Regions from separate parts of the Homo sapiens genome. Here regions 2 and 3 are each linked to region 1. Evidence: fine-mapped expression QTL. A gene starts in region 1. Each other region holds a variant in brackets. All regions are shown on one strand. Distances are from middle to middle. Region 1 holds the start of CHN1 (chimerin 1). Region 2 holds the start of CHRNA1 (cholinergic receptor nicotinic alpha 1 subunit). Region 3 holds the start of LOC124907908 (a long non-coding RNA gene).

Evidence for each region. PIP is the estimated chance that this variant, and not a neighbour inherited with it, causes the effect.
Region 2: its variant is fine-mapped to the expression of CHN1 in tibial artery (GTEx, PIP 0.91).
Region 3: its variant is fine-mapped to the expression of CHN1 in whole blood (TOPMed, PIP above 0.99).

The regions. Positions count from the first base shown.
Region 1 is chr2:175,001,393-175,009,577 of GRCh38, reverse strand. It overlaps CHN1 (chimerin 1), which reads left to right and starts at 4,197. Exons shown (of 13, transcript NM_001822.7): 1 at 4,197-4,684. The coding sequence starts at 4,666. RefSeq lists a silencer at 4,437-4,496 and an enhancer at 4,481-5,027.
Region 2 is chr2:174,762,523-174,770,707 of GRCh38, reverse strand. It overlaps CHRNA1 (cholinergic receptor nicotinic alpha 1 subunit), which reads left to right and starts at 6,236. Exons shown (of 9, transcript NM_000079.4): 1 at 6,236-6,356. The coding sequence starts at 6,314. RefSeq lists an enhancer at 5,736-6,235. The variant A/T (reference allele first, on the strand shown) is at 4,120.
Region 3 is chr2:174,782,187-174,790,371 of GRCh38, reverse strand. LOC124907908 (a long non-coding RNA gene) reads left to right here and starts at 2,422. Exons shown (of 2, transcript XR_007087311.1): 1 at 2,422-2,498; 2 at 5,503-6,153. RefSeq lists enhancers at 1,537-1,831, 2,244-3,059, 7,718-8,185. The variant C/G (reference allele first, on the strand shown) is at 3,930.

The sequences.
Region 1 (8,185 bases):
GCTCTGAGATTACTGCACTCCAGCCTGGGTGACACAGTGAAACTCCGTCTAAAAAAAAAAAAACAAAAAACCAAACAGACCAAATAGCTGGATACAGTGGCTCATGCCTGCAATCACAGCACTTTGGGGAGGCTGAGAGGAGTGGATTGCTTGAGCTCAGGAGTTCCAGACCAGCCTGGGCAACATGGCAAACCCTGTCTCTACTAAAAATACAAAAATTAGCCGAGTGTGGTGGCATGCACCTGTGGTTCCAGCTACTCCAGAGGCTGGGGTAGGAGGATTGCTAGAGCCCACGAACTCAAGGCTGCAGGGAGCTGAGATTGTGCCACTGCATTCCAGCCTGGGTGACAGAGTGAGACCCTGTCTCAAAACAAAAACAAATCCACTTTAAACAAATTCACACAGTGGAAACAAACACTGTAACTAGTAACATAAATATGGGATAGAGAGAATGTCACATATTGTGAATATTTAAATAATTTTAACTTTCTTAATTTTAACTTTAGCAGAAGTATACTGTGTAACATTTTTCTCTTCACTAGCAAACTTCTGCACTATTTTGGGAACTGTGCTAATAGCACTGGTATTCCTAGTGTTTAAAGCTGTGTTGACATGACAAAGTACTATAATTTTAACTTGTTATTGTGAGGCAGAAACCGCCTCATTAATTTCTGCTTCATTGAAAACTGAGGAACAAATCAATGTTTACCAATGGGAATGAAGCTAAATGGGTAACAAAAAGAAATTCAAAACACTTGTGATAAGTCATTAGTTTAAAATGTAGGAAAACCATTTTAAAGGGTTGTCTAGGTTCTGTTTAGTCAACAAAACTTAAATAAAAATGAGAAATTGTTTTAGTAAATTTGAAATGGGTTGTTCAGTGCACACTTTTAATTTTAATCCTGTTAAACCAGAAAAAGGTTGCTTTCTACATGATTAATATAACATTATTAGTACAACACATTGCAGAAGAAATAGCAGTACCACTGGTTTGACAAAATATGACTTCTTTATTACATTAGGTATTTATGAACTTTAGATATAACAGCACTTTAAATATATTGAAGATTCAAATAAAAATGTCCTCTGTTTTATCCATAAACCAGTTAATTTAAAGATTTTAAAATATCACACAATGACAGATAAACCTAAAAGGGACATTAGAGATACCTTAGTACCATCCTTTCATTTTACAAAGGAGGAAGATAAGAACTAGAAACAGTAAAACATTTGTCTAAAAATCTGACAGCTAGTTAGTAACGAATAAACAAATCTGGCTCTTCTAAGCACTTGCATGTTAAGCACAAAATGAAATCATTGAATGAAAACATAAATATTTTGAGAAGTCAATTCATTCTTTGCCCTTCTTTTATAAACAATCTAAGTCACCACCCGTAATAATCACCTCCAAGCAGTTAACGCCCTTCCTTGCATTGACTCTGTAGCTGAAAGGCTGTGGCTTTATTTTCAGCTAAGTGAGAAAAGAAGCACATGCAATAGAATAGGAATAGCTCATTGAAAAAAATACGCTATTTTAAAAGCCAATACTATTTCCAAGACAGGCACTTTGATCAAGTATAGAGAGCATTTTGTTAGAGCATCAAACCATTTGGAAGTCAGTTGAAAGGAATGGCTCGTGGAAAGCAGGATGCTTTAAAGGGAAACATAGCAACATTCACACTGTTTTGTTCCAAATTGTACCTTAAAAACAGCTGTGTGTGTGTGTGTGTACGTGGGTGTGCGAGTAGAAAGGGGAGAGGAAAAGGATCTTCACTTGAGTTTAAGCAGGGTATTTCACTAGGATTCAGTTGTATTTGGCCAAACTAGTGAGTGGAAAGCTGGTCTAGTAACCAAAGGCCGGCTGTATGATGGGAGGGTAAATCTGAGTGCAGGGCAGCTCCTTTCTCTCTGTCTCACTCCCAGGACAACCCCTCAAGGGATGGAGAGAGCTACTAGCAAGCTGAGCTGCAGCACCAAAACCTTGATGCTCTAACAGAGCTTAACAAAGAGGAGAGAAAGGCATTGTTTCTCTTTTAGCATGATGGGACACATAGTTCTGAGTAGAAGGGCATGTTAATAAAAACTCTTTGAGACAAAATGCAACTTCCCAAACTCTATGCAGAATGGCTAAGGACAAAATACTCTCGTTATTTTGCTTCTAATACTAAACAGATTTTTCTTTTGAAATTCAAACCATGCAACCTCTAAATTGATGCGGGATGTGGGTAGGGAAGGTGGTCGGTGAGAACACCAGAAATCTAAGATTTTCCCATTGGTTCTGCTACTAAATAGGTGAACACATTTGGGAAAATCTTTTTACGGGGAACTCAATTTTTTTACCTATAAATCATGGGAGTTTTGGTCTTTTCCTATTCAAAATTCAATGGTTCTATTCTGAAGGAAAATATTTTCCTTTAAATTATAAAGGCAAAAACTTTCTGAGATTACAAAAAACACTTCCAGGGGCTCACCTAAGGTCCCTGAATAGCCCATAATCCCCTTGAAATTATGTGAAAAATTTCCGGTGAATGTGTGTATGTATGCAAGCACTTTTCTAAGAGGAGGGACAGTATTTTCATTAGAGCCTCAAAAGGAAATTTGGTCCAAAAATGTTGAAGACCACTAGTTGAAACAGTAAATGGAGTCTTCGGTTTCTGATTTATTTGGCTGCAGAGCAGATTAGCAGCAATCTTTATATGGTTATAAAATCTATCCCACAAAGCTTTCTTGAGTTTCTCATTTATTTTCATGAGCTGTGTGTTTGTAATTTTTTATGAGCAGAAAGGTTGTTCAAAATCAAGAGTCCATTTTCATGAAAGATTTTAAATTCTGGGGATTTTAAAGATGTATTTTGATTAGTGGCTAAAGAGAGCCATTTTACATCACAAAATTCCAAACATATAGCATCTTAAACACTTGCCCATTCATGTTGAATCATTTTAATATTTCTTTCTTCCTGAGTTAACTGACTTGAAACAAAAGGCTTGGCTCCTCCTTCCAACCTGCTTTTCTTCTGATGCTTAAGTCTGCTTTGAAATAATGATGGTGAATTAACTGTGGTTCCATTGGAAGTACTGTAGTAATCTCCCACTTTATCAGGATTCGATCTCTAAGATACATTAAATACAAGATATTTCTATAATATTCTTAAAGAATTATTTGAAAATGGGAGAGAAGACACTAGGGAACCTGAGGAACTAAGAGGAAAGACGCCTGTAGAAAGAAAGGAGAACCAAAGAGAAGATCTACATGATCAGATACCAAAATAGTATCAAATCCCTAAGCAGAGAAACAAGAAAAAAGAAGGAATTTCTTAAACAGGGAACACATATAGCAACTAGAGAAGAATGACTTTTTGAATACATTAAACGACAACGACGAAAAACATATAACCCAGCTTTTCAAGAACATCTTTTGGCTGACAATCTCAAGGCGTTGTATGGCTCCTCATGGCAGAGACAGAGGTGAGGAGACAACATCACAGAAAGGAGGACGTTGCCAGTGATTATCAGATAAATACAAGAAGCTCAGGGGAACAATCTTTTGTGGCAAATAAGTGCCAGTCAGTGACACATGCTGATTTTTTTTTCCTTGAGACAATATCAAAGAGGTATAATGTAAAGGGAAGAAAATCAGGTGTAAGCATTGGTCTTTTAACAAATTATCTTAGGTAATCTCAGATGCTTTTTAAGCGACTCCTTTTCCTAATGTGTGTCAATTTCATCAGAACTACTAGCAGCTCCTAAGTCCAAACGGAGAGGAATGCAGCTTTCAGTGCCTCTGTTCCTACCAGAGCCCTGCAGCTTCAGGTCACCGGCTCCAGCCACAGTGAGCCTGGAGGGCGCCAGGAGAAGAAATATGTTCTCACACGCACCAGGTCCCCAGATGACCCTGCCTGGGCGCTGCGTTCACTCAGCATCCTCCTGTGACTCTTCCTCTTTCGAGTAACAGCGTTTTTCTCCTCTCTGCGCCTCCTCAAATTCCATTCAAGAAAAAACCTGGGCTTTCAGCTAAAACGCACACCGGCCCCGCTCCATCCCGCTCCGGGCGGCCGCCTCCAGGGGGGCGCTGGTGGCTCCTCGCAGCCGCGGGAATGAGGGCGCACCCTCTTACCCCCGCGCGCGCCCGTTGCCATGGGAACGCACTCGACCGGGAAGCCCGAGGGAGAGGCGGGAGGCAGCGGCGCGGCCGAGCTCGTGGGAGACGCTATCGCAAGATGGCGTCTGCGAGGCCGCGGGATGCGGAGTGAGCGCGCCCCGCCGGGGGCTGTGCGAGGCTGCTGCTGCTCTCCCCGTCGCCGCCGCCGCCGCCGCCAGTGCGGCGCCGCCTCTCCGCCAGCCACTGCGCCGCGGCCAAGCCTCCTGCCTCGCAGGTACCTCCTCCCGCGCGCACGCTCCGCGCCTGATGGCAGCGACAAGTGCCGGCTCGCGGAGAGCTAGCGGGGCTCCCTGGGCCCGGTGCGCCCGACAATAACGCGTGAATAACTTTTTCTTGCAGCGGTCCCCCGCGTCCCGGCCTGCAGCCTCCCCGGGCGCCGGCGCCCCCAGCACGCCCCATCGGGCACCCCACTCTCTCCGAGGTGTGGGTGCGGCGGGCTGATGAGGTGATCCCTAGCCCGCCTGGGAGGAGCGCCTGGACTCGCGGGCGGCGGCGAGCGCCTTTACAATGGCCCTGACCCTGTTTGGTAAGTGCAGCCGTCTCCCCGCGCCGCCGCAGGTGGGCCGCGTCCCGGGGCTCGGGGGCGGGGGCCTGGGGGGCCTGGGCGCCCGGGGAGGGGGCGCGGCGCGTGGGGTCGGGGCGGGCCGGGGCCGCAGAGTTGGGGCGCCCGGGGCGCCGGCTTGCTCCCTCGCGCCTCTCCCATTGTTTCCTCTCCCGGCAGGGCCGATGGGCGTGTGCTCCCCTGGCCAATTCTCGGCTGGGAGGCTCAGAGGTCCTGGGTGTTTTGCAAACGCACAAAGATTCTCTAAGATGCCAACTTGGGAGTGAAGTTAACTGGTTGTTTTCAAACCTGCCTTTCCCGTCGGTAAATAAATCCTTGGAAAGTTTATTTATTTTGAACGAGGTATCTGTGAGTCCCCAGCCTCCTTGGAATTGCCAAATGCATGTGTTGCTTCCTGTTGGACTATTGGGGAATTTTTTTTTTGGACTCAGTATATTCCGTTGGAAATAAGTATGATTTGTGAACTGAATATGGGTTAAAATTGAAAATGTTTGCACTAACGAATGAGAGCAGACAGAATAAAGTTGGTTACCAGAAGATAACTGTAATCTCAGGAGACTGAGTATTCATTAAGAATGAAATGTTATTTTTGTGGTGTAATTACTGCAGCACTGTTGCTTTTGGTGGTTAAGACTTCAAGCTGTTTTTTTCTCAGTCTGCAATGACAATGGGTTGGGAAAAAGGACTGAAAAGATACATTCTTTCCTTTTACAAAACGACTATGGTACATACGTACCTGACTTTAAGAAAACTCAATATGTGAACATTAGACGTTCAAAGTATTCAGCTTTTTTGAAGAAGCAAAGTACAATGATATGTAATTGATAGCTACGAGAACAGCCTAAGTAAGTTATTCACAATATCAAGTTTCCAGTTCAGTTTTAATTATGTCATTTGATCAAACACGTTAGAGGTGTTACATACCTCAAATGCTTTTTGAGGTAAATACTTCCCAGTGAATTAAGCTGCTAGAATCAAAGTGTTACTTTTATTTAACTATCTTATTTTATAAATTAAACTTAGACCCAGAGAGGTTGTTTCCCAAAGTCACATGGCTCTTTTGTGGCAAAACTGAGCCTAGAATTCACTTCACCAGGCTTCAGTCTGGGACTGTGTTTACTGTGCCCAAGTGCATTACTAGAAGTGCCATTTCTTACTTGGTGATGATCCTCCATAGGTACTTTAAAAAAGTGTCTTCTTTTTCTGAAAAATAATAAAATTCTCGCTGTTTCTCAGTACCTTGTATCTAAGCATTATTTAATAGCAGCATTTTCCTTAAATGTGGACCTTTTTGGTACAAACATTTTCTTTCCTAAAGAGATATTTGGCATTTTCAAGGTGTGGTTTCAGAAGTAAGGTTTACAAGTCAACTTTTCAAATACTCGCATTCCTGACGAATAAAAAAGATAAATTGGGGTGAAAAATGCTCTTTTAAAAGGATTTCTAAATTCTAAATCTTTAACCACTGTGGTGAAGATGAGGAAGGGAAAAGCATGGAATGTGGCCTATAGAAGAAAGTATAAGAAATCACTCCCAGCCTTCAAAATGAATAATGTATCTTTAAAATTTTAAAGTCTACTTATGGGAAAATAGAATTCACTTCCCAAAATCCAGTTTGTTACAGTGTGAACGTTTCTGTGTTATAAAACAAAGCACTCTTGAGTGCAGAGGCTATTTGTTAAGTAGTGATAGAGCAGCAGCTGTTTTTAAAAGTGGTTGTACACCACTCATCAGTCATCTGGGATGTCTATTAAAAATGTAGATTCTTTTGCCCAAAGACATGGGGGAAGGGGATTTTAAAGTGACTCCCTTTGTGATTCTTATGCTCACTCAAGTTTGAGAACTGTTGTATTCAAGATAAATGCTAGGAGATTGGGTCAAACTCGCCCAATACAAAATAGCTTTTTGTGTATGTTGAGAGATGTACCTAAGGGTTAGAAGAAATGGATTTTATTTTAGATTTTACTACCTTTAACTAGTTGGTCTTAGTCAGAAGTGCCTCATGTCCCTTCATATTTACTCTTAATGACCAACTTAGAACAGAAGAGCAATGGAGCAATAAAGTTCTGTGAGATGGTAGTGAAAAGAGTTAGAGGCAGGGACCTAACCAGATCAACAGGATTTGTCAGAGCTCAGCAGAGTTTATACCTGAGGCTCCCCAGAGTAACGACTGCCAGGGCCCTATCTTTTGTATCTTGGTTGATTAGTTAGTGCAGTCCAGCAGTAGAGTCTAGACTAGTTATTTGCTTTGTGTTTTACATTTTCTTTCCATTCAGGCTTTTTATAAATTTAAGAAATGTTCTTTTTATAGGGAGTTGGTGACTTAGTTTTAAAAAGTGGAGCCTCTAACATTACCTGATTTTGTATTTGCATACATTTAATTTTTTTCACCTGTTAAGTATATTATAGGAACTCGAATACTTGTTAAATTAAGCTGAATAGTTAAGACTGTTTTATCTCTCATCCTCACTGTTAATCACCTTTGCTGCTTAACATATTTTTAATGCATATTAGTTTTATTTTGGGATAGAAGAACCAGACCCCAATCTTGAAAGATTTTACAGTCTCATTTGGGAATTGAAAATGTGCATTTTTGAAAGCTTAAGAATTTGCACCCGTTTTTCTTCTCCTTTCAAATGAACTCACATCTCATTATCAGCTTCGATATAGTTTTTAAATCCCCCAATTTCAAAAATTATCCAAATGTATTACAGACTCTGCTCGCTCACCTTGCTCATTTTTTCAGCAAACATCTGTCACAGCGTACAAGAGACATGGTCCTCTAGTGGCACTTCAGAGTCTTTTCTAGAACTATAGCGAATGCACCTAATTCACTAATTACCTAATTCCGTATAGTGAGTGGCACTTAACTATTAACTAATTCCGTATAGGCTTTGTGAGAACTTCCTTAGTAGAGAGCACATGTTTTCTAGTAATTACTGGGATAAAAGGAAAGTCTCAGATCCTTGAATATGGGAATTTGTGGCTGGTGTACCTGACAAAATGTCCTGATTGGCCACACCAATAGAGCCTTAGTTGGCAGAGCTGGGTGAATAAGCATTCTGCCAGCTCTTGCCTTGGCAGGAATCTCTGTCATTTATAGCTTAATGGGGCTGTGGTTTATAGCCCAGACCAACTGATGCGATTGGGAACTCAGTTACCGTCGGCTGGGCTGGCTGAACCTTGAATAATGGTCCTCTATCTGGGTAGAGTCACCTCTGGCGTTGCTGCTCACCCTCCTTGCCCCTTATTCTTGTTACCATTTAGTCACCATCTTACTACCATAGATCACTTCTAATAATGCTTATGATTTTGCTATAATTTTGTACCATCTTTCCTCAGACCCTTCTGCCATGGAAACCTTTTCATTATCTCACTTTATTCAGCATCTGTCACTAACCTGACACACCTACCTATGGACATCTTTTGGAGCAATTAAATAGCAATGGCATATTCTTTGTGATG
Region 2 (8,185 bases), 240 kb after region 1:
CAGGAGGGTGAGGCAGGAGAATCGCTTGAGCCTGGGAGGCAGAGGTGCAGTGAGCTGAGATCATGCCACTGCACTCCAGCCTGGGCGACAGAGCAAGACCCTGCCTCAATTAAGAAAAAAAGAAAAAGAAAAGAAAAGCATATATAGTAAATCCCATTTGAAATTGTTTTTCTGAGACCGAGTCTCACTCTGTTGCTCAGGCTGGAATGCACTGGTTAAGCTATCACAGTTCACTGTAACTTCCAACTCCTGGCCTTAAGCGATCCTTCTCCCTTGGCCTCCCAAAGCACTGGGATTATAGGCATGAGCCACTGGGCCCAGCCCCCTCTGGAACATTTGTAATGTTGTTGATTGGATCAAAACATTATATCTCTATTATTGTTGAATATTATCATGCAAATATGCTGTATGCTGTTATTTTTTTCTATTCAGAAAAAGGCACAAAACAACAACAACAAAATTCTTTTCACTCTGCTCCCACCAGCTCCCACCTAATTTCTTTGTTACCTTTTTCAGTAAAACCTCCAATTCTGCCCCCTTAAACCTATTTCAGTCAGGTTTCACACATGTGAGGTTGCCAGTGGCCTGCCTCCATAGTGCTAAGCCCCGTAGCCATTTCTGTCCTCATCTCATGGGCTCACCCCCACCCCACCTCCTGCACTGGCCTTTACCAGGCTTCCAGAACTCTACCCTCTTGTGGATCTCCTCCTGCCTCACTGTGTCCTCCTTCTCAGTCTTCTTCGCTGCACCCTCCTCTTCTTCTCAACTTTTTTTTTTTTTAATGACACAGAGTCTCACTCTGTTGCTCAGCCTGGAGTGCAGTGGCATGATCATGGCTCACCGTAGCCTAAACCTCTTGAGCTCAAGGGATCCTCCCACCTCAGCCTCTCAAGTAGCTGGGACCATGGCACACACCACAATTCTTGGCTAATTTTTTTTTTTATTTTTCATAGAGATGGAGTCTCACTATGTTGCCCAGGTTGGGCTCAAACTCCTGGCCTCAAGTGATCCTCCTGCCTCAGCCTCCCAAGTTATTTCCCAACTGTTTTTTTTTTTTTTCTTTTTGTTTTTGAGATGGTGTCTCACTCTGTTGCCCAGGCTGGAGTGAAATGGTGTGATCTTGGCTCACTGCAACCTCCACCTCCCGGGTTCAAGTGATTCTCCCGCCTCAGCCTCCCAAGTAGCTGGGATTATATGTACCCGCCATCATGCCTGGCTAACTTCTGTATTTTTGTAGAGATGGGGTTTTACCATGCTGGCCAGGCTGGTCTTGAACTCCTGACATCAGGTGATCCACCCACCTTGGCCTCCCAAAGTGCTGGGATTACAGGCGTGAGCCACCACGCCCAGCCTCCAACTTAATGTTAGTTCTCTTCTCTTTTCTGCCCATACTGATTCCTTTGACCTTATCCTGTTGTGGCTTTAAACAACATCTACTCTAGATTTCCCAAACTACTGACTCAAAAATCCAACTGCCTGCTCACATTTCTAATGGACACCTCCAGTTGATCACACCCCAGGCAGAACCCTTGAATTTTCCCCCCTTTAAACCTGCTCATCCACGGTCTTCCTTAATCCACTTGTTGGCATTTAAATCCTTCCTTATGCTCAAGCCAAAACCCTGCAAATCATCTTAAATGCCTCCCTTTTTCTTGCATTCTAGATCAAATCCTTCAGGAAATCCCATTAACCCTCACGTCAAAATACATTTCCCAAATCTAACGACTTCTTACCACCTTCACTGCAACCACTCTGGTCCAATTCATCACCATCTACCTCAGGGATTACTGCAGTAGTAGCTCCTAATTTACACCCCCACAGCCTGGTGTCCCCAAAGCAGCCAGAGTCGACCTTTGACAGCATATGTCAGATGGTGTCACCCTTCGGCTCAAAATGCTGCAGAGGCTCCTCATCTCACAGAGAATGAAAGTCGAGGATGCGTGTTGCGTCCCCCTTCCCTGGGCTGCTCCCTGACCTCATCTCCTAGCAGTTTCCCCATCTCTCGCCCTGCTCCAGCCTGCCAGCTTCCTGGCTATGCCCGAGATCACCAGTCCCATTCCCCTCAGGGACTGCGTTGCTGCTCACTCTGCCTGCAATGCTCCTGCACAGATATCTGTCTGCATCTCCTTCAAACGCCACCTCCTCAGTGAAACCCACCCTACCTGCTGTGTTTAAAATTGCAATCCCCTTCCAGCTGTCCTGGTCCCCTTTTATCCTGCTCTGCTTTTTCTTTTTCCTATAGCAATTTTTACCTGATGACACATTAAACAATTTACTTATTAGTTATAACAATTTACTTATATAAATTATATATATCTTATTTATATAACATATAAGAAAAAATATATAAAAATATATATTTTATATAAATAAAAAATATACATCTTTTTACAATTTATATATTATATATGTTTACATGTATAATTTATTGTATATGTTTACATATATAATTTATTGTATATGTTTACATATATAATTTATTGTATATGTTTGTATATTATATATAATATATAATGTTTATATATTATGTATGTTTATATATAATATATGTATTTCATATATAAATATATAAATATATTTATATATACATTTATATATATTTTATTTATAATATATGTATATGTATATATAATATATGTTTATATATAATATATGTAAACATATAATACATGTAAACATATATGTAAACATATACAGTCAAACATATATGTATATATATAATATATAACCATATATTATATAACATATGATATAAAAATAAATTGTTAAAAGGATATATATCTTATTTATGTAATATATAACATATGTAATATATATAAAAATAAATTGTAAAAAATATATATTTTTTTAATCATCCATCTCCTCCAATTAGAATGCATTTTTCCTGAGAACCAGGAATCTTTGTCTGCTGTGTTTATTGATGTATTCCAAATGCCTAGAACACTGCTTGGCACATAGCAAAACCCAGTGAAAAAATTTTTAGTGAATGAATGAATGGAATGCATGGAAACAGGGTCTGAACAGACACAAACTAAAACATCAAAATAAATATTCTGGGTAGAAGGATAGCAGGTCTTTTCATTCATCTGTTCTCTAATTTCTCTAAAATAAATTCAAATTACTTGAATAATAAACTTTTAAATGAAAAAAACAGTTTACTCCTGAGGATAATATTAATAGTAGTTTTAGTAATTTTTTTTAGTCTATGGTTTCAACTGTTCACCTTTAGAAGAGATTTTTTTGTTTAAATTGTGGGAGATCACAGTTTGTTTAAACTGTGGCAATAAAGGGGGAAAGCCTCCAATGATATCACTGTGAAGACCCCATGCCAGGCAGTGGGAGAAATTCTGTCTTGAGTTGAGGTCCCCCTGACCCTGTATTGAGTTGACTTGAGAGGTGGCAGATTGGGGAGAAGAGACAGAGAAGGAGAGGAAGCCAATAAAGGGAGGGTTATTGAGCCATTTCCATCATGGGCAACAGGAACTCACTCCCACAGACATAGAGTGTAGGGCACGCTTGGGGGTTACCCAGTCCAAGGGGAGATGGGGCGGGGATATTTATCCTCCAACATTGGTTGAGGCCTGTTTCTGGAGGCAGTAACACTTTAGCATCTCAGGCTTGTTTCATGTGTTCCCATGGCCAAAAAAAAAGAAAAAAAAATCCCTCGGTTACAGGGTTGCAGGCATTGGCAGTAAGCAGAAAGCCAGGGTAGGCACAGAGAAGGTCTCAACAGATTCCTCGATTCGACCCGATTCTGCTCTGTGGGTGGAACTCCCTTGTCCGTTGCTGTTTGAGGTTCCTGGCTATGCCCCGGGGAGGTTCTTCCTTGCCCACTTTCCCTCACGGCCACAATTGAAGGAGGGGATGGAGAAAGCACCCTTTTTGGAAGACTGTGCAGATCTTGGAGCCTGCTTTCTGGCCGTGTGTGTTTGGGAACTCAAGGACTGCTTTAAGCCTTGAACAACCAAAACTTTTGTAGCCTGGGTTAATGAACTCTTTGGCAATATAATTCCTTCAAATACTGAGTAAGCTTCTGCAATATTTGTTTCCATCATTCCCATGTGCCTATATACACACATGGTCACAATTCTTTAATCTGATTAATTTCTTTGCATCCTA[A/T]CCACTATACCTCTCTCCTTCAACTTAATAGCAGCCATCTTGAAGCCATCTGAAAAAAAAAATAGATTTGGCTGTGAAGAAAGCACCCTTAAAGTGATCTTTGCTGTGGTGATGAAACTGCCTGTTTAAAGAGAAGTCTTAACGGGCTTTGGTTGCTCAAAGCCTTTATTCCATGTTTTCACTTACTCTTTTGAAGTTCAAAACAGAAGACTCCACATTTCTGGACTCATTCTATTTCTTTTCATTTCTGCTCTTGAACCAGCACATTTTTGCCTGAGCTCAGCTCTTCCTTGTACTGACTTGCTAAACAAAGCCAGAAAGAGCCATGGTGCACTAACTTTGGGTTTACCAGCCTCTATTCTGGGAGCTACAGGCTCAGTAGACACATTGTTCACCAAGTAATTGAGGACAACAGTTTATGAAATGATTTGATACCATATAACATGGGTCTTCATATTTTCAGCCTCCAGTATCAATTTTCTTGCCTTCTGCTGCAGTGCTACATATTTTAGAATTTATTTTTAACCTCAGGATACTAGTGCAAAGGATTACATATTTTATTAATTACGGAACACTAGCTGCTGTACAAATAAACCCAAGGATTTTGATGGCTCAGCACGATGCATGTTTTGTTTTCATTGAAATAGTGCTGGGTGGTGAGCAGGTGGATAGGGGGTCCCCCTCCATGCAGTCATTCAAGGATTCAGAATGTCAAAAGCAACACCACCTTCAGAACATGGTTTCTAAGGTTAACTTTGGGACCATGTCCATTCTAGCCGGTCAGAAGACTAGAAGGGCGGGGCTGAGCTCTGGTAGGTTTGTGAGTCTGAGAACATTTTTCCACTCATGCCACTGGCCAGAGGTCAGTCCCATGGCTCCATTTAGATGGAAGGGGCTGGTCAGAGGGTGGGGGTTGTATTTCTGCCACGGGGCTATTCCATGGAAGGGAGAGAACCAAATTTTTTTTTAGCAAACAGTTAACTGATCTCCCACAGTTTAAACAAAAAATATAAATAGTATGAGCTTGCAGCTCTCTCCTCTACCCTCCAAGCCCCTTCTCTAATGATTTGTTTGGATCCACTGGAATGAGAGGATCTGTCAGGATGTTGTTGTGGGCTTGAGGTGAGAGGACCTTTCTCACCTAGTTCCATGTGGGAAGGAGGCCTGGAAGGAACAGGCAGGGTACCTTTAAGTAACTGTCTCCTTCTGGGAACTCACCTCACACCCTGCAAAGAAGCACAGCTAGGGTAACAATACTTCTCAGACTGAGAAATTACTAACTGCTGGTTTTTAGGATGTTTTTCAAGCAAGATAATTGAAAAGCTGAACCACTCTGCTCTTTGCTTCCCTGAGTGAGAGTAGGCAGAGGGACGGATGGAAGGAGGCAGGAACCCGGAACGACTGCTGATGCGGTGGGACACTTTTTCCCAATAATTACTCTTCGCTTGAATCACAGTGCATAGGACGTGGGCAATTTGCTCCAGCTAATGGTTCGTGTGGGATAGGTATTGCCTGATACAGAGGCAGGGGTTGGAACAGCCACTCTGGGGGCCAGTAAAGCCAGTTTTATGGAAGAAGCTGTCTTTGTTAAAAACCAAACCCAATCAACGTGGGGGCTTCCCAGCAGCAGACTCAACACCAGCTACACTTTTCTGAAATCCAGGCAGTCAGAAAAGCCCCCGGCACCCTCAGCCTAACACTGAAGCAGAGGAAATGAAACTGAAGCCATGTTTGCAGAATGTGGATTTTTGTGGTTTAGGACAAACAGCTGACTATCTACTCAGACCAAATGACCCTAATCAAGTCAACCCACAGAGATGAGGTTCTGGTTTACACAAAAGAGAGGCAGTTTGCTCACCATTTAAAATAATTCCTTCCTTCCTATACATTTTTTTTTCATTAAGATCTGACTACTGGTGCATTTAAAATATAATGCAGTTCATACTCAGCTTGTCAAGGGTAAGCAATTGTGTAAAGTGAGGCATATCTGTAATGGTGTACAGTCCCAGTAACTCCCTGGGCTCCAGGGCTGAGGGCAGCCCAGCTGTCGCTCCCACAAACAGGTGGTGTAAAACAATAGCTCTAGTGAGCCGACTCGCTTTCCAAACCCTCCAGCAGACAAGCACCCAGCCAGAGTGCCAGTGAGAAGCACAGGCCACCACTCTGCCCTGGTCCACACAAGCTCCGGTAGCCCATGGAGCCCTGGCCTCTCCTCCTGCTCTTTAGCCTTTGCTCAGGTAAGTGCTGGGGTCAGGGGTGGGGAGAGGGCTCTCCTTTGAGGCTAAAGTGCTGGAGGCCCCCAAATCAAAGTCTTGCTTCTTTGATGAGACCACAGAATGGCAGAGCCTCCCCAACCAGGGGCTGCTCTGTCAGTTTCTTCCTGATGTTAGCTTGATTGAGTTTTTGGATAAAGATTTTTAGTTTGCCTTATCTAATTAAAATAGAAACTGCCTGGTCAAAGACTTCAAGATAGACACGCATGTCTCTCCCTCCATCATGCCTGGCAGCCGACTCATCCCTCTGAACACTCGGCACCATTTGTAGGACCTGGACCACTTGTGGATCATGGTAGTGTCCGGGGGTTCATATTTAAACAACTATGGATACTTAGAACAGTGCCTTATAATCACATACAATGGAGTTAACAAGTCCCTTTACTGCTCCAGGAGAATTCTAATAATAAAGAGGACTGATTGACAGCTACATGTGCTGGAGATAGAAACCAGTTAATAATCATAACTAAACTCTCTCCACAGAGACAAATATTTTTTAATTTTTTCAAAATTTCTGAAGTTAAAAAAAATTCCATATGAATACATTCCTACCTACTTTTTTTTTTTAAGATGTTACTATATATAGGTTTGGGTTTGAATTGAAACTATAAAACCTTGCACAGCATTTGACCTGCATTCTACTCTGGAATGTGTCCTAACACAGCAGCTGAAACACCATCCTGAATCCCAGACTTCCGCTAGAGGGAAACAGGAGATGTTTGCTGATTGCTTCACATAAAAGTTTACTGGTGATATCATCCCAACTGAGAAACAAGGTGGCTGACATCCTGTGATTTTTCATTTCCAATATTGCTCTGAAAAACACAGGCCTTCTGGTCAAGAGGCAAAAAGCTTTATTATTAATTTTTTTCAATATCAGAGTTGAGTGAAAGAGCCTAAACTCAGATAAATTATATCATGTGGGATTTGGACTCTGTCCAGCCAAAGCTGGCCTGATGTGTGTGTGTGTGTGTGTGTGTGTGTGCGCGCGCGTGCACACACATGCGTGCACGCAAAACCACAGTCACAGGAAAATTCTTAAATGATATGCTTTAATGTAAACATCCTTAAGAGATCTCTTAGGATTTTGGTTATTGCTAACCAAAAATGCATGATTAGCTATTAAAGAAGTATGTGATATGTATTTAGGTCAAATCTCGAGTTTGCTGGCATTGATTTCCATGGGTGTTTTATAGAAATTTAGAGCTAGATCAGGCAGTCCAACATCCTCAATTTTTTATTACAAGGAAACTAAAGCTGACCTGCCCAAGGTCACTTAATTTATACATTTTGGAATGTGGTCAGTTGGAGACTTGGTTTATTACATGCACAGTCAGAAAACACAGCCTGAACTAGCCAAAGGTAGCAAGAGATACAGAATCAGGTTAAGATAATAATGATCCATGGGACTAGTAACAGTTCAAAATTTCTTTTGCCCAGCCCAGGGAGCTATTTCCTACATACAAATACAAATGGAACCAGTGTGGTACAAAAGGAACACTTTGAAACTGTGGTTGAGTTTCCCTTCTTAGAATCAGTCCTTTGTAGACAAAATTGTCATTTATATCAGGGACTCTTTTCCTGTGTTAGCTTAACACAGCGTGATCTCTGTTCTATTTATACAGCACTTTTCATTTCAACTTTTTCTTTTCTTTGCCTCTGGAATCTCAAGCACTTCATTGCCGTCTTTCTTACGGCATATCACTTTCCAACTTGTTCACAGTTATTTACGTAAATGACAAATGTCAATCTCCATGAGGGTAGGAAGAAGGATTCAGTTTTGAATATCTCGA
Region 3 (8,185 bases), 220 kb after region 1:
AGGGGAACACTCGCACACTGTTGGTGAAAATGTAAAGTAGTATTACCATTATGGAAACCAGTACGGAGATTCCTCAAGAACCTAAACTAGAACTACAGTATGATCCAGCAATCCCACCGCTGGATATACATCCAAAGGAAATGAAATTAGTATGCCAAAGACACTTGCATGTTTATCACAGCACTACTCACAATAGCTAAGACAGCGAATCAACCTAAGTGTCCATCAACAGATGAATGGATAAATAAAATGTGGTGTATCCAAAATAGAATATTATTCAGCCATAAGAATGAAATCCGGGCCAGGCGTGGTGGCTCACGCCTGTAATCCCAGCACTTTGGGAGGCGGAGGCGGGCGGATCAAGATGTCAGGAGATCGAGGGCATCCTGGCTAACACAGTGAAACCCGGTCTCTACTAAAAATACAAAAAATTAGCCGGGCGTGGTGGTGGGCGCCTGTAGTCCCAGCCACTCGGGAGGCTGAGGCAGGAGAATGGCGTGAACCCGGGAGGCGGAGCTTGCAGTGAGCCGAGATCGCGTCACTGCACTCCAGCCTGGGCGACAGAGCGAGACTCTGTCTCAAAAAAAAAAAAATAAAAATAAAAATAAAAAACTCCTGTCATTTGCAGCAACATGGATGAAACTGGAGGACATTATGTTAAGTAAAATAACATGTTACTCATGTGTGGGAGCTAAAAAAAACCGTGAATCTCATAGAAATAGAGAGAGAATGGTGGTTACCAGAGGCTGGGAAGGGATGGAGGATGACGAGACGTTGGTTAATGGGGACAAAAATACTGTTAGATAGAAGGAGTAAGTTGTAGTATTCGATAGTATAGCAGGGAAGTTATAGTTAATCATTTATTGTCTATGTCAAAATAGCTAGAAGAATTGTGACTCTCCCAACTCAAAAATGTTTGAAGTGATAGATTTCCCAATCAGCTGACTTGATAATTACAAATTGTATACAGGTATCAAGATATTATACGTACCCCCATATACATGTACAACTATTATACATCAATTTCGTAAAAGAAAGACCTTAGTGAAATGGGAAAAGTTCACTTGTCGCCCTTGCAGGGCGTGCGACACGGGGACCGGCTTGCTTCTTCAGTGCCCCATTACTCAGGCCTCTAGGGAGCATACAGACGCGAAGGCTACCGGGCTCCAACCCCACGGCAGTGTCGAGGGGTGGATGTTTACAGCTCCTGAAGCCCCAGTGGGCGTGTGCTACCCTGCGCTCTTTTAGTTTTGTCGTCTATAGGCAGCTTGTATTAACCAGCTCAATTAGACCCTCTGCCTTGTTGCAACAACAGGGGGCTTTCTGTATCCTGGGTGCTTGCTTTGCTGTAACTGAAGAATCGGATCACACCTGGGCTTGGAGAATGAGTGCAAGATTTTGAGTAAAGGCAGCTCTCAGCAGATGGGGGAAGTCAGAAGGTGATGGAGTGGGAAGGCTTCCCCCCTGGAGTCGACAGCTCAGCGGCCTGGGCTCTCATCCGACTGCCACAGCATCATTCTGCTTCTGCCGGTCAGTGGCCTAGTTCCTCCGCCATTGTGCTCCTCTCCACGTCCTGCCATCTGTGTGTCTGCCTGCTAGGGCCTCAGGATTTTTATAGGCACAGGATGGGGGCGTGGCAGGCCAGGGTGGTCTTGGGAAATGCAGCATTTGAGCAGGAAAACAAAAATGCCTGTCCTCATCTAGGCTCGTAGGGGTGGAGCCCTAGCCAGGGGCCACGCCCTTCCCTCCCCCCCCCCCCCCGCCCCCGCTTCCGTATCACTTAAAGGGACCACGCTCTTCCCTTCGGTATCATTAGGAAGCTCAACAGGAAGGGAGGTGGGGTTATCATAGGCTAGCCATTCCAAAATACTATTTGAAAATGGGACTGAGACCGTAGTTTGGAAAGAAGTACTTGTTCTGAATGATCAAAGGGGAAGATGATCAAAGGGGAAGATGACACAAACTCTATAAAAGGGTCAGATGTCTGTTCAAGGAAATGAAGCATTAAGGATCTGATTATTCTTTAGGTTTTTAACTGATCAGGACTTGCAGTTCTTGTGTTACCAAGGGCCTGGTTTTCTGGTCAGCAGCACACAATTGTTTTAAATCCCAACCACTCATCCTAGTAATCCAAGCCCCTGAGTAGCCACAGGGGTCTTGCATTTCCCCGGGGCAATGGCTTGAGGGAGAGTCTCCTGCCCCTCTATGATTTTCAGGAAGAACTGATTCCCTGTCCCAGGTTAGATGGGTCTCCAGGAATATCCCTTAGTGACTAGAACAGAGCCCTCAGCCAGCCATCCTGGAGCTTCAAGCACCCTACTGCAGTGGGTGGTACATCTGGGCCCCATATGTTCGCAGGGAGGGGCTGAAGAGCCCAGGCCTACATTGCCAGGTCACCCACCCATTTGATGTGTGGTCACAGTGGAATCTGGTTGCCATGGGGATGCGAGGTTTTCTACTCAGGCTGTTTGAGAAGCAAATTTTTCCATTGTGTATATGTAAGCATACTTCAACATCTTTAAATTCCTTTTCTTTTTCAAATAGCATTCAGGGTGGATTCATACATTTAAAGAAAAATTCTAAAAGGCAATTTCCCAGAAAACAGGCTTTTGGAGGGTAACCAGGGTTCAGCCTTTGTTGAGGGATGAGGATAGGAAGAAGGGGCAGGGGCCACTTTTCTGAAAGCACCCAGGTCTACCCGCGCTGTTTAACATCTATCTCTGTGCTGCTGCCAGAGGCTGGCCCAACAGTAGCAGAAGCTCCAGGGATAGGCCAAAGAAAGCATTTTTTTCTTCTTCAACCTTCAACAAGGAAAGTTTACCTTGTTTTCTTTCTTGGTATTCAGTAAATGATTCCACAGCCCAGGCCTCTCTCCTCTATCTCAACACACAGGAACAATTTTTTGAGCTTCTGTGGACTTCTTTTTGGAATATGGTAAAATATACATAAAATTACCATTGTAGCCATTTTTAAATGTACAATTCAGTGGTATTAATTATATTTACAGTGTTGTGCCATCCATCTACAGAACTTTATCATCATGACAAATAGAAACTGTACCTGTGAAACAATAACTCTCAGCTGGGCGTGGTGGCTCATGCCCCTAATCCCAGCAGTTTGGGAGGATGAGGCGGGTGGATTACTTGAAGTCAGGAGTTCAAGACCAGCCATGGCCAACATGGTAAAACCCGTCTCTACTAAAAATACAAAAATTAGCTGGGGGTGGCCACACACGCCTGTAATCCCAGCTACTCAGGCTGAGGCAGGAGAATTGCTTGAACCCGGGGGGCGGAGGTCGCAGTGAGCTGAGATCGTGCCACTGCCCTCCAGGATAAGTGACAGAGCAAGACTCTGTCTCAAAAAAAAAAAAAAAAACTCTCAAGGGGCATGATAGCTACCTGCAGACCCAGCACTTTGGGAGGCTGAGCCAGGCAGATCACCGCTTGAGCTCAGGAGTTCAAGACCAGCCTGGGAAGCTTGGCAAAACCCAGTCTTTACAAAAATTACAAAGATTAGCCAGGTATGGTGGTGCATGCCTGTAGTCCCAGCTATTCGGGAGGCTGAAGTGGGAGAATCACCCTAGCCCAGGAGGTCAAGACCGCAGTGAGCAGAGATTGTGCCACTGCACTGCAGTCTGGGTAATAGAGTGAGATTCTGTCTCAAAGAAGCAAACCAACGACACACACACAATAACTATGCCCTTCTTTTCCTAGCCCCCGCTAACTACTGTTCTATTTTCAGTCTCTGTGAATTTGCTTATTCTAGGTACCTGATAGAAATGGAATAATTCTATAATATTGTCCCTTGGCGACTGGCTTATTTCCCTTGGCACGGGTTCAAGGTGCATCCATGTTGTAGCAGTCTCAATGCTTCATTCTTTTTAAGGCTGAATCATATTCCATTATATAGATGTGCTGCATTTTGTTTAT[C/G]CATTCATCTGTGGATGGGCACTTGGGTTTTTCCACCTCTGGCTATGGTGAATAAGGCTATGGTGCACAAGGGTCTGTTTGAGTCCCTGCTTTCAATTCTCTTGGATATATAACCGAAGTAGAATCGCTGGATTGTAAGGTAATTCTATGATTCACTTTGTAAGGAACTACCAAACTATTTTCCACAGCAAGCCCGGGAGACTTCTGATTAATGCGTTTCCTGGAGCAGCTGAGGATTGTTTTCCAATAGAGTTTGGCAATGAGAACAATGGCATCTATTTTTTAATTCTCTTATTCACTTTCTATTTTTCTCTGAAGGTTTCTGTATGTCTTCTTTGTTCAAGATTCTCCTATTGACTGTTAGATATAACATATCTGGGGGCATCACTGAATTGATAATTGATTGATTGGTGGACAAAAACTGGCAACAAGGTGGGGTGAAGCAAACATTCTCCTGCTTTTCCAAACCCTCCTGTGGATCCAGCAATACTTGGCTTCCACCGGTCATTCACAGGGACCTTCATCACAACATCCTCTCTCACCCTCCCCACTCCCAGCTTCTGTCTCCCCCAGTCCATCCTCAGGACCAATGGAGTGTTCCTTCCCTGGACTCATTCTCCAAACTTCCACCACACTGGAAGTCTCTACAGCGTTGTCTCGTGTTTTCACTGTTATTCCTAATGTTTTGTCTTCTTGGGGCAGCATATTCCCACCCCTCCCACTTCCACACATACAACAGTCCCAGATATAAGGCTAAGCTCATCATAGAACTTGGAAAGTAAGAGCACACTGACTCACGACCCTGGTCATAGACTTGGACAAATGCTGCTTGGAGGTCCCAGAAGTAAGGAAGCCTGGGGTAAAGGAAGCAGCCATTTCTAGACATGGAGACTGGATTTTGCTTTTCTCTTTTGCATATTCTCATAGTGAATATAAAATATTCAAAGAAAGACATGTAACTGAAGAGTTTAATGAATAATTTATAAAGCAAACATCTTTGTCACCACCACCCAGGTTAAGAAGAAAAACATTGCCAGGCACCCCAGAAGTCCCTGTCCACCCTGGGAAAGAAAGTCTGGCTGATTCTGATTCCTTTCCTTCCCCTGGGTATCCGTATCTTGTGTTTTATAAATTTTTTTCCATATTTTTGCTACTTTTGTATGCATCCCTAAAAAAAATATGGCTTTGTTTCTGAACTTCACATGAACAATATAATGCTGTATATATTCTTTTTCGATTTTCTTTGTTCACTCGACTTTATGTTTGTGGGTTATGACCATGTTGTTGCCCTAGCTGTAATCAGTTCATCTTTACAGATGGATAGCATTCCACTGTACAAATATAGCTCAATTTATGCAGGCCATCTATAACTGTTGATGGGCATTGGGTTGCTTCCAGCATGGGGCTATTAGAAAAAACACTCTCATGATCATCCGTATACATCTCCAGATGCAAAGCATGTGCCTAGGAGCAGGGTTGCTAGGTCATGGTGCCAATGTATCTTCGCCTCTCCTAAATAACGAATGCTAGCCTGTTTTCCTAAACTGTTGTGTCATTCTCACTCCCACCCTAGGTGAGAAAGTGCCTACTACTCCTTTGCTCTCCAACACTCAGAAAATGCTCTGCAAATCCATGAACACAGAAGGCTGCTTATCTATTTCACTGGAGCTAAAAATGTTCAACAGCCACATCCTTGACCTTGGAGATCTCTAAGCTCAGAGGCCCTTGGAGATCTTTCCACAGGATCTCCTGCCCCAGTTTCAGAATAGTGGGAGTCAGGGGAGACTGGAACAGAGATGACAATTGCAGCTGGGCAGGAAGGCCCTGAGGGCACTTAGCAGTCACCCTGGAGTTGTAAATGGCAGAGCCTCGCCAGCTACAGACCCGCCAGCCAGTTGCACAGCATACATCAAAGGCTCGAGATGCCCGGCTGTGGGTTTAAATGGAGCCCAGGTGTAGCCTGCAAACTCCCTCTCTTCTCCCCCACTGAGCTACACCTCCACTTTACACGCTGAGCTTGGCAACCTCAGCACGACCAAGGCTGTGGGGTCAGAGTTGCTCTCAGTCTTGCCAGCTAGGAACGCTCAGTTAGGCTTGGTGATTAGAACCCACCCTATGAATAGAGCAGAGATGCTGTGTTAGACCAACTACTGTTCCAGAATCAAGTGATTCGGATCATGTGTGTAAGCAAATAAAAAGTTCAATGTTGTGAATTGAGAAAAAATTTACGTACCTCCTTATTACAAATTTCAAGCAGAAGAGATAAGTACGAAGAATACAAAATCACTTAAAACTCCACCATACGGAAACAACCATCACAAACATTTTGTTCATTTTCATTCCATATATCTCTCAATGCAAATACACAGATGGAAAAAAGAATGGAAGGAAGAACTGAAGAATGGATGGATGGGTGGAAGGATGGACAGATGGACAGATAGATGGGTAGGCAGGTGAGTCCGTAGATGGGCACACAAGTTATAGATGTAATTCTAGAAATAATCCTACAGTACATGTTATTTTGAACTGAAAATGTGTTCCTTCTCTTTAGAAACTATTACCTGTTGCTTTCTTCCTGTAAGTACAGGAGTAAGATATTCTTAATGCAGAAACCTGGAGATCATAGAACACAAACTAAAAAATGCACTCATATTCCACCACCAGAAGATTACTGTTAACATATATGCATACGTATGTATATAGGTATGTTATGGACTGAATGATATCACCCCATAATTCACGTGTCAAAGCCCTAATCTTCAATGTGACTGTATTTGGAGACAAGGCCTTTAAAGAAGTAATTAAGGTTAAATGAGGTCATAAGGCCCCTAATCCAGTAGGGCTGATATCCTTATAAGAGGAGGAAGAGACACCAGAGATCTCTCTCTCTCTCTCTCCATGTGTGTACAGAGAAAAGGTCATGTGAGGACACAGTGAGAAGGTGGCCGTCTGCAAGTAAGGAAGAGAGCCCTCACCAGAAACCAACCCTGTTGGCACTCTGATCTTAGACTTCCAGCCTCCAAAACTGTGAGAAAATAAGTATCTGTTGTGTGATCCATCCAGCCTGTATTACTTTATGGCAGCCCAAACAGACTCAAACAAAATACAATGTAATATTTAGCAATGCACCTCTGTCACCTACCTCCATGGTCCCTTTTTCAGTCTTTATTCTGTTCAGTGGCCAAGGGCCAAGGACTCCCTGTGATGCCAGCCTCTGGGCACCAGAATGGAACTACTCAAAAGGGCAACAGCAGCCCCGCAGGCCTCCCCATCCTCCCACCCAGTGTAGGCTCAGTAATAACTGAGTCTTCATAGCTACAATGCCTTGAACCAGATTTTAAAACAAACAAACCATGCATGAAATTGATACAAAAAATAAAATGCTGCTTAAGTCTGTCCCTAGATCCAGCTCCTAGGGGAGTCCCTTCTCCCCTACAGAATGCATTGGCCTCTGTCATCACACCACCTTCTCCGCCATCAACACAGGGATCGGGAGGAGACCAGACATGTTGTCCAGACCCAGGCTCTTGTGAAAGGTCTTTGGGTTTTGGACAGCAGTATCCAAAGCTTTCCAACTTCTTCCCTATGCTAGGGAGAGGCGAGGCTCTGTAAGTGTAAGCCTAAGGGGGTGAAGAGGCCTCGTGCTCACAATCCCTGTCTCCAACCTCATTCCTTATTCCTACTAATCTTCCTGGTGCCCCTTCTTATCCAAGCCCCTCATGTGATCCCTACACCCAGGGCACCCACCACTGCATGTCCTCACTTGCATCAAAATATCTCCAGCTCCCATCCTTAGAACTGTCGCGTGAGCCATCCCTTAGTAATATGATGGTCAACTCCGTGAGGGGATTGAGCTTGTCATATATTGCTGTTCCCAAGCTACCGGTTTGCATTTTAAATGGGTCTTTCTGAAAGCAACGGTGTACTCTTAAAAACATGGCTCCCCCCAGAAGCTGCGTGCCATGAGCCTGATTGTTGGGGCTCTGCAGGGGCCTGCAGGTGTGTGGACGCTTGGATCATACTGAGCAAGGGGCTACCTACCCCCTCTATGCCTGAGACCAACCTGACTTCTAAGGAGATGGTGGAAGGGGAGCAAAGAGAGAGGATACCTCCGCATTTCTGCTCTGGGCCCCGCTCTGTGGGGGCGCAGAGCAAGCTCGCTGTGTTCAGCCCAGCCGCAGTGCCAGCTGGCGAGCTTGCCAGATCTTTCTCTATCCCCCATGCCACCTCCTCCTCTCACCTAAAATGGGAGGAGA